Homo sapiens: one gene and its partner. The protein of the gene in region 1 purifies or fractionates together with the protein of each later gene. This does not show direct contact. Each region holds a gene or a part of one and is shown on either strand. Other genes may lie near its edges.

Region 1 (8,864 bases):
TTTTTAACACTATGTCTATATATACATCAATTTTTATATTAATTATTTGAGCTATATAATGTTATTTGAAAGTAAAAGAATCATTGAACCATTTGCATGCTTCAATATTTTTAAAGAGAGCATGATAACGTGGAGAAGTAGGATGTGATACCACAGGTTACCCTACTGCAATCATTACTACTGTGTACAAGAATCACCTAGACAGCCTGTTAAAAATATAGCATCCTGGAGCCTCACCCCTAACAATTACTTCAATAAGACTGGAATTAATCTAATCCAAGGGTTATGCTTTGAGACACACTTAAAATAAAAGTGTCTGTAGATCATAGAGGAAGTGGAGAGGAATGGAGAGAGTTTAGAGAAAAGCAGATGGAGAAAGGCAAAGGGAAATTTCTGCCTTGTTGGGAAAGGGTAAAGTTGTAGTAATTACATTTCATGTGCTTGTGCTGATGGTGATACTACTCAACATTAAAATCCTGTGATACTGTAGTGTGTATCTGTGAAATTCTTGAATTACATGAAATTCTAAACTTTTTTAAAGGAAGCTAAATTTTATATGAAATTCTAAACTTTTTTAGAAGGAAAACGAAATTCTTATTGGACTGAAATCAAGTTATCAACATTGTTAAACGTGTAAGTAGAATTATTTAATCACAATAATAGCACCAATTGTAAAAGCAAGTATTAAAGCAGGATACTTGGCTGTCTTATTTCTAAGGGACTAATGTGAATAGTTGTAAACCTAACAACCCATTTTCCTGCCAGGTACACATACAAACACAAGAAGAAAATAAATTATTGGTTCAATTTTTGAGAGCATCCAACATTTTTATTTAAGCAACTTAGTCTCCATGAAAACTATACTTCTGTCTGTATTTTTAAAGATGCCTCTTCTCATGTTAACTTTATTCCAAGTATGTAAATGCTACCAGAAAGAGTAAAACATGATATACAGACCTTTAACACATTATGTTCTGTTTCCTCCCCTGTTATAACATCAATTTTCTCCAGCAAGCATTTTCGTGATGGTTGGGAAGAGAATGCAGCAGCTGATTCAATTAGGGAAGTATTTTTAATAGAGTCTGTTCCTAAGAGAAAATGGGGAAAAAACACTTAAAAGTCCCCATTTTCTCTACTGTGAAAGTTCTTTGTTGCCCCTATTACCACATATATCTACTTGGCTTCTTCTAGTAGTAAGTGATTCTAAAAATTCAGACTGCTTGAGTTGGTGTAAAATCTCCTTATCAATTCCCCCATAGCATTAACTCAAAAAATTTTTAAAGCTTATATATCAGATAATCATATTTATATGCTTTAACCTTTACCAAAATATTTGAAACACTGGATTATTGGTTTTTTAAATCTTATAGTAAATATTAATTTTACTTATATTAAATATTAATGTTAATAAATAAAAAACAGGAGACAAACTAGGTGAATCTAATGTTTTACAAATGAAAGAATTCTTACTTGAACTTAAAAAGTTGACAGGAAATTTCGGAATGGATTTGAATGGTTTTTCCTTGGCATATGAATCATTTTCAAGTTGAGGCTGGGTGAGTTTTTGAGTACCCTGAGAGCGGAAAAAGATGCATTATTTTATTTAATAAAAGTTTTAATTTTATCCCTACTATGTTTGCAGTAAGACACTTCCGTTTTTCTGTTTCAACACAGCAAGCAAACCTAGCTGGTATGTTTTTGTTTTGGACTTTCTGTGTGCTGAACAGAGAAATCGTCTCTATTGTTAGAAAGCCTTAGTTCTAATCCTCAGAAAACATAATCTAGTTACCACCAGCCTACTTCAGGTGGGATCTAGTCCCGGAGGCAATGGGAAAGGTCTAAGGGCACAAAAGAAGGTAATAGATGTTCCACACTCTCACTAGACTAAACTGATGCCCAGGAGGTACAAAAGAAAGAAAAGAAAGAAAATGTGCCTTTGAACTCGGGAGTTAAAAAGTATAATTCAATTTAATATTACTTTTAATTAATTTACCATTAGAAATTTAAAGTGACAGCTCTGTATATAGTAATAGAAACATATACCAAGGTATTTCAGTATCCCCAGAAATTTACTCTTGCTATCCACTTTATGGAAAAAAACAAAAAAGTTATCCAGAGACCCCCACAAGATGTCTCAGAGAACATCTTTTTAGAAAAAATCCTAACTTTTCCTCCCAGACGATTTTGCCAACAGTAGCTTTTAAGGCTACTTGGGGCTCTGTATGTCTGTTGTAATCAAGGCCTGCACAAAAAAAGACTAATTGACATGACATTTGTGATAATGTGTAGCCCTCTGCAAAACACAGAGAACTGGAACAATGATACTTAAGAACTTAGGCTTACATTTTTTCCCTTATGAACTGAAAATTCTTTCACATTACTTAACTAGACATCAAGATATTCCCTCAAAATTGGTAGAGATGGGTATAATTATTTCCATTTTAAGAAAATAGAAACTGAGGCACAGAAAGTTTAAATGACTCACTCTAAAAACACATAGTCAGCCAATAAGCCAAGAGTGCATCCTGGCCCCCAAATCACAAGGCCAAAAATTTACAGGATTAGAGGACAAACACAAATTATCTCTATAATTCCTGTTATCCTTAAGATATTACCAACTTAAAGAGATAGTTCAGGTTCCTTTATAAGCCTTTATAAGTTGAGGTTCCTTTAAGCATTTAAAATGCCCACAGGAAATGTGCACAAGTGCCTTCTCAAACAAAACCCGTAGTCCTGACTATAGTTTATTTGTATAGGTATCTCTCTGCCTGCTCTTATTAGATTATAAGCACCTTTAGGGCCCAGTGTCTCCTTTAGCTTGCATAACCACTTAGGTGGTTTTCAAACCTGCCTGTACATTGGAATCACTTGACACCTGGCCTCACCCACAGGCATTCTGAGCTAATTGGTCTGGGATGAGGCCAGGCATAGGAAATCCTTAAAAGAATGATTCTAACAGGCAGCCAAATTTGAGATCAATGCTTTATATACCGTAAGAACTCAGTACATGTTTGGTAAATTGAGTTGAATGTTAAGTTGATCCTGTGAGGTTTGGAAAGCATTGTCTGACATTTTACAGACACTGTGGCTAATCTGGTGTCAAACTTAGAAATAAATGATATGGAATAAATGTGCCTAAATATACTGCCTGTAAATTCACCATGGAGGCTGGTCCATTTTGGTTCACATCCAAAGGCATAGGTCACAGCTCTAGGATTGGTGAGTTGACCTTCATTTTGGGAATGACAGAAGGGTTCCTAAATAAACTAAGCCTTTAAAATGACTAACATATGAAAGCCCTAAAAATTTTGTAATGAGTTTGGGCGCAGTGTCTCATGCCTATAATCCCAGCACTTAGGGAGCCTGAGGCGGGTGGATCGCTTGAGCTCAGGAATTTGAGGCCAGCCTGGCAACATGGTGAAACCCCGTCTCTACCAAAAATACAAAAAGTTAGCCAGGTGTGGTGGTACGTGCCTGTGGTCCCACCTACTCGGGAGGCTGAAGTGGGAGGATCCCTTGAGCCAGGGAGACAGAGGTTGCAGTGAGCCGAGATCGTGCCACTGCACTCCAGCCTAGGTGAAAGAGCAAGACCTCATCTTAAAAAAAAAAAAAAAAAATGGAATGAACTGGCTTAACGAGTTGGTTCTTTTATTAATCTAAATCCGTACATGGGTTTTTAAATCTCTGCAGCTTCTTTGGGATTCTTCATGTAACTGGTATCCCTGAGACAAGCTAGGCACGTTCGAGCTATCTCAGCCACTTTCCTGACTTGAGTGAAAGCTGGAAAAGGTATGAAGATGTGATGGACCAGATAAAACCATAGGCATGGTTTTCCACAGCTTTCACTTTTCTGTAAAATTTTCCACTGTAGATCAGAGTTCTGTGGGGATCAGAGAAGCAGTTACCTCATTGCAAGAGGATGCTGAACATTAAATAAGGATGATGGTAATAACGTGAGGGGTTTTCACTAGGCAAGTATATTCTCCTAGGCAAGTAAAGCACTATGAATTTTCTCTGAAAGCTAGCAAAAGAAAGTTATAATAATGCTTTTTGATGTAAGAGCTTGAAGTTAGGGTTGTGGTTAACTGATAAGAACAAATTGGCTCAAGCTTATAATCCCAGCACTTTGGGAAGCTGAGGTGGGCAGATGACGAGGTCAGGAGATCGAGACCATCCTGGCTAAGACAGTGAAACCCCATCTCTACTAAAAATACAAAAAAAAAAAAAATTAGCCAGGTGTGGTGGCACGCGCCTGTAGTCCCAGCTACTCAGGAGGCTGAGGCAGGAGAATCACTTGAACCCAGGAGGCGGAGGTTGCAGTGAGCAGAGATCGGACCACTGCACTCCAGCCTGGGTGACAGAGCGAGACTCTGTCTCAAAAAAAAAAAAAAAAAAAACCAAACTGGCAAATAATTTTAAATGCATCTTGTTACAAAATGATGACATCGACAAACTATTAAACTATCATTACCAACTGAGCTTATCTAACTATTGCAGATGATTCTGGGATTTCCTTGGGTACTTTTGGTTTAACACAAGTCAAAGAACTATTTAATATTTCACATCAGTAATAATGTTATAATTATACAGTTCCCTTCCTCTGTGGGTTTCTATTATTTTAACAACTAGGACATGCTTCCCAGGAGAATCTTTCCAGTTAAAGAAAGAAAATGTGCGTTTGAACTCAGGAGTTAAAAAGTATAATTCAATTTAATATTACTTTTAATTAATTTACCTTTAGAAATTTAAAGTGACAGCTCTGTATATAGTAATAGAAACATATACCAAAATCTTACCAAAACTCTTTCTACCATGTTTTCTCCAAAAACAAAATTGGAACTGCAGCTTTTAAAAGAACATTTATCTTCATTTGGTTGACATCTAAGAAAATGAAATAAGCATTTACTATTTTAAATACATAGATAAAGCCATTTTAAACCTTGAAATAATCAGATAATTTAATAGATTTATGTAAATCAAATTTACTGCTCACTTTTGTTAGTGTGAATTTAATGAAAAATGAAGGAAAAATTCAGATAGTGGCATCCAGAGGTGATTGTCAAAATAGTTTCCAGCTCTTACAGCACTGGCAGAGACCAGTCCTGACTGCCTCATGCCCATCACTGCACTGGCTGTGTGGTCAGCCAGGAGGGCTTCCCAACCCCTTTTGCTTTTCCAACACACCCTGTCTAGTATCTAATTTCCCCTCTTCTCTTCCTCAAGTGGCTGATGTTTTAGCAACCAGAGATCTCCAGGGCAAAAGCGAAACCCTGTCTGTTATAATTGAGTGTGCATTGGCTTAAATTTTTTGCCTCCCAGAAACTTTTTTTTAATGTTAAAAGTGTTTTTCATGATGAGAAACTCGAAGACCGGAAGCCCGCTCTTTGTAGACAGATGTGCTCAGGGTTCGGCATTGCATCCCCAATGCACATAGAAGGCACCTGCTACCGCACCTGGACAGAGCCCAGTCATGTGAGTCAGTTTATATCCACAGCTAGTTTTAACCTCTCAGATCAAACATTTATCCATCACTAGTAATACTAATAAATATTGCAGATTTATACTGCTTTCCTTGTTGCTTATCTAACCTATGCCAATAAATAATGTATAATGCCAAAATAAAAGAAAAAAATGCTAGAGAGAGAGGAAGAGAGCCTAATCTACTAATCAGATAATTTATGTCCAACTAAATAAAAGTTTAGCCATACATTTTCAAAAAGTTCTCACCCAAGTTAATGAAACAATGAAGACAATCCAGTATTAATATGATAATATTTAAGAATCGAAATATTTTTAAAAACATTTTAAACTTGTGTTTCCTATAAAATCTCCTTTCAAATGGGAATCTTGGCAATTTATCCGTACAAGGTCAGAAAATTATTTTCCATGAATGGTTATAATAATGAAAGAATGCAAGAATGAAAGGACAACGCTTCTATTTTCTCATTAACTTACCCTACTGATGTTGCACCTAAAAAGTCCTGGTTAGTAGACAGCTGGACTGAAATTCTAGCCCTTGATAAATTTTCACTTAACAAATAGGAATTTCCCTCAGAAATCTGAAAGTAAAGAAATCCATCAAAAAGTTTATAAAGACTACCTTACTATAGGACCATCAGACAAGGAAACAATAGTTATAGTTAAATATATTGAAAGCTTACTATGTTTAAGTACTGCCTTAAGCATTTTATGTACGATCTCATTTACTCCTTACAACTCTAACACTTTGTAATTCTATTGTCCACATTTTACAGGTGAGTAAACTGACACAAAAAACTTAAATAATTTGCCCAGGTCACATACAGTGGCGATCTGTCTAATACCGGAATATCATAATATTCAGAAATCCCACCATGTTTTGTTTATTTTTGCCATTTTAGTCAAATTGGGTTAATTCTCATTTCTGGATTAGTAAAGCTCTTTTCAGGACTATTTAATCCTGGGAAACACCCTAAGAATGTCACCATCCTAGTCACCCAATGTGAGAGAAAACCCCACTCATCTATTTATCTTGAAATTTTCAACTAGTAACTTATCCAGTTACTTTGCCTTATGTACATATGTGTATGCACAATACCTGAATTAATATATAAATGTAAGAGTGAGGAAATTTAGAATTGGAAGGAACCCTATACATTATCTGATCTAGTATTTACAATTCCTTCCTCGACCAGGAATTTGCAAAGATGTTTCAGGGCGTTTGTGTCTTTTAAAGCCAGATGGGTTATGTTTCCACTTAAATTTTTATTTCAATCAATAAAAATAATTTTGAGTACTTTTTCTTTTTTAACAAGAGTTTGACAACTGACAAATATGTATCAAGAGAGCATGTGCCATGGTTGGCAAAGATCGAAGTACATGCTCATTACCTAGTCATTCAGATAATGTATCTCTCAGCCAAAATGGTAGTTTTCACTCCTATGTTGGTTAAAATAGTTATTTAGGCATATATTGTTTAATCTATACATAGTAAGTAACCATTGATTAATGATAGGATGAAAATAATTTATCTGATTTTGATATACAAGATAATAAGAAATATAAAGATAATGGTTCTACAAAATCCACCTAGAGATAGTTTTCACAAAATCTTTAAATTACATTCATTTGGTCAAAATTCTTACATAGGATCTTATATACAGTGTGTCTCTGGATCTTCAAAGATCAATAAATGGAAAATTTAATGATGGGCATTAAATTTTCTTTTTAATGATGGGCATATACAGTAGGGCTTTTCAATAACTGGAAATAAGGTTTATTCCCTAGACCTTATAATTTATTCAAAAATAAATATAAACAATAGCTTGAAATTTTCTCTTAAGCTTGGATCATTTAAGAAGAAAATGGAAGAAATATATTAATAAATTTTATTTTAAAATATGCAATGCAATATTTACAAAAATTCTGCCAAGAAAGAAATATTGATGTATTTTTGATGTCATAACATGTAATTAAAATCTTGCTCTATATTTATAGTGCATGCCATTTTAAAATCAAATGCAATATAACTTTTTAGAAATTAGTCAACATATTATACTTTCTATTACATAATTTAAAACAAGTTAAACACCATGCATCACTTCTTTTTTCTCTTTTCTTTTTTGAGACAGTCTGGCTCTGTCACCAGGCTGGTACCATCTCGGTTCACTGCAACCTCCACTTCCCGGGTTCAAGCTAGGACTACAGGCACATGCCACCATGCCCAGCTAATTTTTGTATTTTTTGTAAAGACAGTGTTTTACTATATTGCCTAGGCTTGTCTGGAACGTTTTAGCTCAAGAGATCCACTCATCTCGGCCTCCCGAAGTGCTAGGATTAAAAGAGTGAGCCACCACGCCTGGCCACTTCACTTCTTAAATAAAAGTAAGGAATTATGTAACATGGTGATAATTATTACATTATATTTAAGTGAAAACAATAATATACTTATCTAAAATTGAAGACATGTTTTACTTAAAAATTACTTATATAGCATGCATAAATGATGAAATGATTTTTTAAATTCATAATGGATCTCTCCAAATAATATCTTACAAAGTAAAGAGTTTAGGAATATAAAAATATTGGAAAGTGCTGATCAAGTTCAAGTCCCTTACTTTGCTGATATAAAAAGATGTTGAATGGGTGCTTTGTTTAGATAAACAAAGATAGCAGCAGAGGCAAGATTAGTACCAATCTGGTATTTTTTTACACTTCCGTGTTTCTGTCCTTATGTTCACTAAGGGAAAACAAAGCGAAACTATGTGACCAATCCTCAGTAGTTCAGCTGGAAACAAATGGCTAAGATGGAATAACTCTCAAATTCCAACCTACCTATCTTGAGTCCTATTCCTCCTGTGTCTGCTTCTGCTGGAAGACAGGTAGCACTACAGCAATTGAATATATCCCCAAACCCATATCTGCACGGCTTGTGTAAGTTACTGTCTGTTTAGAAAGGCCTACAAAGAGTGATTCAGACACTACATAGTTGGAAGTTAGAATTCTTATCTGTCTCTAGAGGCTTCCCAAACCCTCCCAACTACACTGTATAGGGAGTTCTCTGCTCCTGTTATACTGGAATTTGGCTCTGAAATGAACCTCTGGTATGACCTAAACTGGCAACGATACACTGTGATGTTGACCAGTTGGCGATGTAGAGAAAATCCCTGCCTCTTTTTTGACTACTGACTCTGGCCCCTGGCTCCCTCATTGCTGTCCCCATTCTCACACAGGGTCATTGCTCTGGCACAAGACCCCCAGATTTCCACTACCCAGTACTCAACTTTACAACTTTAGAGAGACCACAGATTTGTGAGACTACAACTCTCCAATGTCAGAGTACAACTTTGAAAAGTTTACCAAGGGCTTTATGCTATCTAGCCCAA
Region 2 (8,864 bases), on another chromosome or scaffold:
CTGTAATCCCAGCACTTTGGGAGACCGAGGGCAGACAGATCACTTGAGGTTAGGAGTTTGAGACCAGTCTGGCCAACAAGGTGAAACCCCCATCTCTACTAAAAATACAAAAATTAGCCAGGTGTGGTGGCGCTCGCCTTTAATCCCAGCTACTTGGGAGGCTGAGGCAGGAGAATTGCTTGAACCCCGGAGGCGGAGGTTGCAGTGAGCCGAGATTGTGCCACTGCACTCCAGCCTGGGCCACAGAGCAAGATTCCATCTCAAAAAACAAAACAAAAACCCAAAACCCACCGTTTTATAAAAACAGAATCTAGACCCCATGTCCCCACAGCAGGGGGATAGCATTTAAGGATTGAGCCAGAATTACCAGCTCTGCTTCTAAGTTGGGAAGTTGGCTTTAAAAGGGAAAATCTAAACAGAAACAAAACTATGTCTCTATTATGAATGACATATTTGGGGGAATATCAGAATTTTTAGGGTGCAAATTTTCTCAAGTGTTTAACAGATGTAGTAAGGCTTATTTCAAATTGAGTTCCATTTTCTCAACTATTTCCATCATTCCCTAGAACCTGAAACCAACTCCTGACTTTACTACCTGTTTCTCAAAAAATTGTCTCTTCCTCTCCCTCCCTGCCACTACCCTTCCCCCTCTTATCTATGCTGTCCCCAGAAAAATCCATTGGAAACACTTCTCAACATGTCCTCGACTGGCTTATAAGCCTTTCCAAGCCCCACCTTAATTAAGAGATGCTTATTAGCAGGTATCACACAAACCAGACATAAAGTGAGGAACATGAGATCCCTGGCCTCAAACTTGTACTACTTAGCTAGATCTGTCCTATCTGCCATCTCTCCTTTGGCCATTTTGCCCCTCACATTTTACTCTATTCACTTGGAATAGCATTCAGTTCCCTCGGAACATGACTTTGTGTTCCTTCTTCCCTTTGAAAGGTTCTTCCCCACCCTTCTTTAACCAGGCTAACTCGACTCACTCTACATGATTCAACTTTGGATGTTGTCTCCTCCAAGAAACATCCCCCGAAGTCCTGGGCAGAGCTAATTTTTCTTCCTACAGTTTACCCACAGCACCCAGCAAAAACCCTTGTCATAGCACTTAGCAAACTCTAAGGAGATTAATGTGCATTTGTCTTACTCCCCAACTATGCTGTAAAGCTCCTTGAGGACATGGACCATCTCAGCTACTTCACAGCCCCAGAACCTTGTGTGGTTTTGGCTCAGGAAGCATTTAATTACACATAATTTGTTACATTCATTTAGAGAAATGATCCTCTATGAAAATATAACTATATATTGAACATAATATACATTTTAATACCTATTTATAAGTATTTATTAAAATGTTTTAATGCTTTAAGGAATATCAAAATTTGTGAACAGCCAACCAGTCTAAAACGAAAAGGGCTGCTAACAGTGTTATGAATGGTGAACAACTAAAACTCTCATACATTGCTGGTAGGAGTGTAAACTGGCAGAATTTACTAAAGCTAAACAGAAATATACCCCGTGACTCAGCAATTCCATTCCTGTATATATACCCAACAGAAAAGATAAGAATGTTCTTAGCAGCATTATGCTTAACAGCCCCAAACTGGAAATAATTCAAATGTCCATTAACATTAGAATGGATGAATAAATTCTAGTATATTCATACAAATGCAAGAGCAATGAAAATGAACTCCTGCTATACATAGGAACAAAGATACTACATTATAAAATTAAAAAATAATCTGCGACGATGGGGTGAAAACAGTGGGGACCTCTGGAGGTGGTGAGGGTCATGGGTATCAACTGGGAACAGACACCTATAGGAAGCCTTCTGTGGCAATGGAAGTGTTCTCTAACTTGATCCGGGTGGTAGTTACACAGGTGAACACTGTAAAAGTTTACCCAGCTGTGCACTTAAGATTTGTGCACCTGTATTACAACAAAGTGAAGGAAAATTGCAACAAGAAAAAAGAAAACTTGTGAACAACTGTGTTAGGGCTATGCCAACAGCATGTACAGCCACAAGACAAAAAGCAAACTGATAAAAGTCTCTTTGTCCTTTCCCTATAACATGGAAAATATTTTTTTTAAAAAAGATTACTTAAAATGCACAAATGGTATTCCTTTTATTATAATGTTTTAAACTTGGCTTAAAGTTCAAAATACTATTTCCAGATAACTTTCCACTGTTACATCAACTAGGCAACTTTGTTATGTTTATGTTATATGTATCAGTTACTTATCAGCACAGAATTTTAACCACTCTGCTAAATTTTGAGAAAACAGCTAAACTCAATATAAAATTTGGCCTACAGAATTATAGTGGCTATTTGTTACTAAAAATATTCCAAAAGAAATTTACTTATTTTACTATATTCCATATTCTTTAACTTAAAATCTGCTGCCACTGTTTAGTAAAAGTGGGACAAATAAAATTCTTTAAAATATAGAAAATACAGTTCCTGTTAAGATTTTGCAAACAAAAAAATTAATAAATAATACAATTTGAGTACTCTAAAACAATATACTTTGTAGTCTAGATTGTGGTTTTGGTCAGTATGTCTGACACTATGAAGATTTACATCAGTTCAGGGAATGAGTTCTAATACTATTAATAAATAGTCAATATAACCAAACACCTGACAGGATTCCCCATATGAATATTTTTAGGAAAGTATACAAATAAAAAGATTAACAGGTTTTTAAAATCCTTAAGAGCAAGAAAGAACAAAAGTATCTAAAACTTATACACGACAGGCAGAACCTGGGTTACAGTATACCTAAGGCAAGAGTGAATGTAGCACCCTGAGACACAAAACATCTTAAAATTACAATCTTATATGCGTATATATAAAATAGGACACTTTCTATTGGTTATGTGAACTAGATTATAACCTACAAATCTTAGTATTAACCAGAACTTCCTGACTGGCTGACATAGCACATTAGTGAGATAATACAGGTGGTACTTGAGACTTTGAAACCTTTTTCAAAGACTTTCTTCGCTTTTGACTTTGATGCTGTCACCTTCAAGGCACCAGTCCAAGTGCTCATTAATCTGAGACTCCAGAACTTCATTCTGACAAACTGGGCAATTAACCATTTTGCTCTGACTGGATGAACTGCTGGAATTCTGAGCTGTGGTTGTACTATACTTTGGATCATTACCACTGCTTTTTATTTGCTCTTTCTTGATAAAAAAATTGTCAAAAACAGTCTTATCTTCTAGCCTAGGTCGTTTATTTGGGAATGTATCTTCAGACCCACTCACATCCTGGGATGGCATCACAGATGCTGATTCCGTTACTTTTGAAGAATTTCTTAGGGATATCTTAGAAGATGAAACCCTTCTCTGAGAACTAGAAGAGACTGAGTTTTTAGGGATGTTGCCAACTGTTACACTTATCCTTGGAGATCCATTCACACCTCTGAAAGCCTTTTGGTTGGCAAATGATACTCTAGGAAAGTAGTTGCTTAGAACATTTTGGTGACTGTTACTAACAGCAGGGGAGACCAGATGAGAATTTTTACTTGAACCATTCTGTTCAAATTTCACCTTGATTTTAGAATTAGGTCTTACAGCATTTGCTGAATGGTTTTGATTTAAAAGATCTTGGGTTTTATTAATGGCATGTGAAGTGATCAGTTTCCCAGGTGAAGGTAAATTGCTTGTTTCTCCTAGAACATATCCTTTCCCACTAAAAGGGATTACTAGCTGGGCCTCACCTCTGTTGGGTTTATCTGCCAAAAAAGCAAAGAAGATTGTTATGTAAGTGCCTCAACTCAAAAGAAATACAGTAACAAACATTAAACTAATGTACAGTTTTCTCAAAATGAAGAACTAGTATTTTATTCCATCTTACATCCATACAATCCTATTAATGGGAGGAGGGCAATCTTCAGAATTCAGGAGTTCTGATATTGAGAGAATATAAAGGATAAAAAAAAATTCTCTCATATTTAAATAAAGAATCTTATCATGCCAAAGACCAACAACAAGGCAACATTTACCTTGAAAATTGCTTAGTGTCCTTTATGTGTAATTCCAGGAGGGAAAATCTGCTGCCTCATTCTTATCTTTCCTTCTACTCACGAAAATGAAGATACGGTCTTTCCATATCAATTCATCTATAGCTCTTTCACTCAATAATTAAAGATTTGGGAAATATAACCTATGTTCTTGGGTCAACAACTTCCCAAGGGAAGAAGCATCTTCAGTAACTCTGAACTTCACAGGAAAAGGGTAAATCTTGAAGATGAAGTACTGGCAAATATATGTCATATCCTTTTCCCATTCTTTGAATGAACATACATACATCAATAGAGTCACTTGGATAGAATCCAGCTGATAGGAAGGGGTGTAGTTAGGACGTATATTCCGGGCATTGTTACTTGAATTATTGTTTTTATTTTGACAATCTTTTTGCCTTCTGTTTCCTAATAACTCAGTGAGTCAAGATAGGGAAAGGAACTTTACCTCAAATATTATCAGAGATTGAATTTTGTTTCTTTGAATAAAAAGAAACTGAAAAAAGTTAATAAAAATAAAAATATCCATGGAAACTATTCCTACTTTTACTTACTTCTGTACAGAGCAAAGTCTGTTTTCCTACCATCATTTCATGGACAGTGGGATTTTTTCCTTAAGTCTACACTTGAAGACTTCTACACCAGAAACGATCCTTAAGTTTATCTTAATACCAGTTCTCTGAAGGACAGTATTGTCTTTACATCATAGCTATGGTCACATAAAAATCAGAAGAATATACACGAAGGTACCTTTATTCTCTGCGGCCAATACTGGTTCCTTTCCTAGTTTTGCCTTTCCTTTGCCTTTTTTTGAGTAATTCTCTGGTTCCTTGATTTTTATGTAAGTGCCTCCACAGGTTTTCTGGTGCTCAGCCCACCAATAGTCATGAGCAGAGGGTTCCCTGTTAGTAGCTCGTTTGACATAGCCGTAATACGGTGGCCTGTGCTGGCACGGCCCATTGCAGCGCCACCAGTGTCGCCGATACTCATCCACCTCATCGTGAAAAGTATGGTATACCTGAGTGGAGACAGAATTTTTAGTATTCAATAAGCAAGTTAACAACTGCAAGAAAACAATTTACATAAGCAGTCTTTTTTTTTTTTTTTTTTTTTTTTAATTTTTGAAACTTTCCCAGAGCTTTCTGAAAAGTTCTATTTTAGGAGAGAAAGCAACTATATTTAGTTTCTGTTCAAAAGTTGATTTTAATGGGAAACAGCAGCAGTTAATACTTCATAAACTGTGTAAAGATAGATGCACATGGGATTAGAGGACAAAAAAATCTTTTAAAAACAAAACCACAGAAAATCTTCATGAACACTAAAAGTTTCAGAAATCAAATTTGTAAATGATCAAAAATTAGGATAAAGATAAGATTTTATGTAATACCATACTAAAATAAGAATCATTCCCACTGCTAAATTGAAGTTTTCCCTATAAGTAAAAATAGCAAAGGGTTCTAAAGGACTACATTACTCCCTATAAATGCCTGACTGACGCTAACAACACAAGTATCTTACCCAGTGAAGCTTCTGCTAAGCTCACTCTCCACATTCTCCAAGTTCTGTGCTTATGTCTCTGTAATAAGCCTTATGAGGTACCATTTTATCTGTTTATAAATATTTCTATTACCAGACTGAAAAGTTCTCCAGGATCTGAATGTTTTAATTTTTTGTGTCCCTAGTGGCTAATATAGTGCTTTTGGCACCAAGAAGGTGCTCAGTCAGAAAAGCATCATTCATTGAGTCAAATAAAATTCTCTGAAGTGTGCTTTTCAGGCCTTAAGTAGGATGCCTTCTTTTTCACCCTCTAGACAAAAATCCTATTTGGAACCCAAGCAGAAAACAGGTAAGGGAAAAGACCTGACTGAAAAGAGGGTCAGCCCTCCCAGCATGGTGGCACTGAAGACTATAGAGCACCATTTGAAATGACTCCTAAATGACTATGGGCACCTTATTCTTCTGCCTTCTCAGTGGAACTCTCTGTGTAAGAGTGAGAAGCATCTGTATGTAAGATTTTGGTGTTTTACCAAAGACATTTAGCTTTCTAATAAATTCCCCTTGTGGGAAAGAATGCTAAGCTTTCTATAACTCTATAGATAGTTTTAAACTCACTATCGCTCCATCCTAAGCAAAAAATTTCTACTTGGTAAGCATGCAAAGAATGCACATTATATTAAATGCAGAAGGGACTGAAGGACATAGGTTTTAAGGCAAAGAAGCACGGGAAACCACGCACTCTATTATGTTCAGAACTCTTAATTCATTACCCAAAAAGAGAGACAAATGGATCTGTTTTGTTTGTTTGTTCTGTGACATGGACTTGCTCTGTTTGCCCAGGCTGGAGTGAGGTGGCATGAACCTGGCTCACTGCAACCTCCGCCTCCCAGGCTCAAGTGATCCTTCCACCTCTGCCTCTCGAGTAGCCGCGAATACAGGCGTGAGCTACCACGATTAGCTAATTTTTGAATTTTTTTTGTGGAAACAAGGTCTCACTAAATTGCCCAGGCTGATCTCAAACACCTGGGCTCAAGTTACCCTCCCACTTCGGCCTCCCAAAGTGCTGGGATTACAGGCGTGAGCCACCACACCCAGCCTGGATCTGTTCTGCTTCCAATTCCTGTAACTCCTAACGCTTGGGAATGTGACTTTTAACAATGTAGTCACTAAAATAAAATTACTCTACAATGTAGATACCCTGCAGAGTTCCTTATAACAGGATGTAACCTGTAAAAGCAAGGAGTGTTCACTCCTTACAACCTCTCCTAAATAAAAACACACAGATATCTAAGATAAAAGAACAGATACTCTTCCAGCTGAACAATGGGACGTATACAAGGGCTTTGCTTAAAGTATAAGTTCTGGTTAAGAAACTTAATGTATTTTATACAAGCAAGTCTATAATTCTCTTGCTAACCCGGATTTTATGTCTGATTTTTTTAAAAACTGCAAGACACTTTCCTAATGTTGAAGTAACTGTGTCTAATAATGAAATGAAGTCTTTAGAAAATTAAAACTGATAGCTAGAAAATAGTAATACATGGAGAGGCCAGGCATGGTAGCTCATGTCTATAATCCCACCACTTTGGGAGGCTGAGATGGGAGGATCACTTGAACCCATGAGTTCAAGACCAGCCTGGGCAACATGGTGAGACCCTGTCTCTAAAAAAAAAAATTTTTTTTTAAATTAGCTTGACATGGTGGCACACATCTGTAGCCCCAGCTACTCAGGAGGCTGAGGTGGGAGGATCACTTAAGCCCAGGAGGTTGAATCTGCAGTGGGCTATGAATGCACCACTGCATCCAGCCTGGGCAACAGAGCAAGACCCTATCTTAAATAAATAAATAAACAAAACATGGCGGTTGAGCACTGTTCATTTTCTATCACAGTGGATTTTGTTGCCTTTTAAAGGAAGGAAATACCCAAACATAAGAAAGAATTTAATCTATCCTATTAATATTCAATTCAGTACATTATACACCTTATACAGATGTACTATAAAGATGGGCAAGACCTACCCTGCGTTCAAAAGTATGAAAGTAGCATAAAAAATTGTAATAGCTTAAATATCTGCTGAGGATTCAAAAGAGGGAGAAATGAGATGCCACTGGAACGATGAAAAGCATTCGGACACAAAACAGAGCAGTGGCACGCCTCAGGGAAGCTACACCTGAGGAAAGGCAGGGAGGTCAAAAGTGCAGTTAAAGAGACAGGACACAGGCAGCAGAGTTGGAGGCAGTAAAAAAGGAACAAGGTTATTTAATAAAATGAATACAATAAAACTAATATTTAATTAGTGTCAGATTGGGCTAAAATGTTTTGATGTGCTTTCTCCTTTAATCCTTTCTCCTCACAAGGATCCAACAGATAGGTATTGTTACTACTCTCATTTGCCATGGGTATAAAATGAGGCATAGGAAAGTTAATAATTGGTGGAGCCAGGATTTGAATCCAAGCAGCCTGACGCCTCCAGCTTTTTGAACCTGAGGCTTTGCTATCTCCTACAATGCTATACAGAGATATGAATCAAAGAAGAATTCTGATGAGGGAATGACATCTGCAATGGTAGCAGGATACAGGATGGACTAAAAAAGACAATAATAAGGAAACAAAGTTAAGAGATCATGATGATTCCAGAAGTGACGTACTGCAGGCCTGAATTACCTGTGTGTAAAATGTTGACTCAGAAGAGGTCAGAGGCCTCAGGGATATCACTGGCTCTGCTGCCATTCCACCATGTAGTCCCAGACAAGCCAATTTGCTTCTCTAGGCCTCTCGTTCGCTGTGGAAAATCCTCAAAGATACTTGTTTCTACCTAGTTCTCTACTTTTAATTAAATCTCAGGAGTTATTGAATAAACAACTACTAAACATCATAAATAGATATGGCTTTCTATACCGTTATATTGGCTCCAGTCAGGCTGTTGATGCGATGCATATGTTTACAAAATTCTGGACCATGCCCTTCTCGGTCTTTGTCGTTATTAGTGACAAATAAATAGGCATGTATCATTTCATGCAGGAGGGTCTGGAACATAAAATATTCAAATTAGTTTTAGAGTCTGTATGACACTTTGGAAAATATAAATTTTCTTATTCTATCTGGTGTCTAACCTTTTCTGTATCACAGGCTTCCTTCAGAACTGATAAAACTCATTCTAGGCCGGGTGCAGTGGCTCACACCTGTAATCCCAACACTTTGGGAGGCAAAGGTGGGAGGGTCACTTGAGCCCAGGGGTTGGAGACCAACCTGGGCAACATGGCGAAACCCTGTCTCTACAAAAAAATACAAAAATTAGCCAGGTGTGGTGGTGCATGCCTGTAATCCCAGC

The links.
Region 2: the proteins of RANBP3L (region 1) and SPRTN purify together in Homo sapiens (affinity purification with mass spectrometry; 2 studies listed by BioGRID and IntAct, with this or other methods). This does not show direct contact.

What each region holds. Positions count from the first base shown.
Region 1 is NC_000005.10:36,255,984-36,264,847, forward strand, and holds part of RANBP3L (ran-binding protein 3-like), read right to left. Parts: intron 6,060-8,864; coding exon 5,956-6,059; intron 4,882-5,955; coding exon 4,797-4,881; intron 1,574-4,796; coding exon 1,471-1,573; intron 1,089-1,470; coding exon 958-1,088; intron 1-957. UniProt on the Homo sapiens protein: Nuclear export factor for BMP-specific SMAD1/5/8 that plays a critical role in terminating BMP signaling and regulating mesenchymal stem cell differentiation by blocking osteoblast differentiation to promote myogenic differention.
Region 2 is NC_000001.11:231,347,493-231,356,356, reverse strand, and holds the end of SPRTN (DNA-dependent metalloprotease SPRTN), read right to left. Parts: intron 8,561-8,864; coding exon 8,432-8,560; intron 5,054-8,431; coding exon 4,786-5,053; coding exon of another isoform or gene 4,751-4,785; exon of another isoform or gene 3,748-4,750; coding exon 2,996-3,747; 3' UTR 1,334-2,995; downstream 1-1,333. UniProt on the Homo sapiens protein: DNA-dependent metalloendopeptidase that mediates the proteolytic cleavage of covalent DNA-protein cross-links (DPCs) during DNA synthesis, thereby playing a key role in maintaining genomic integrity.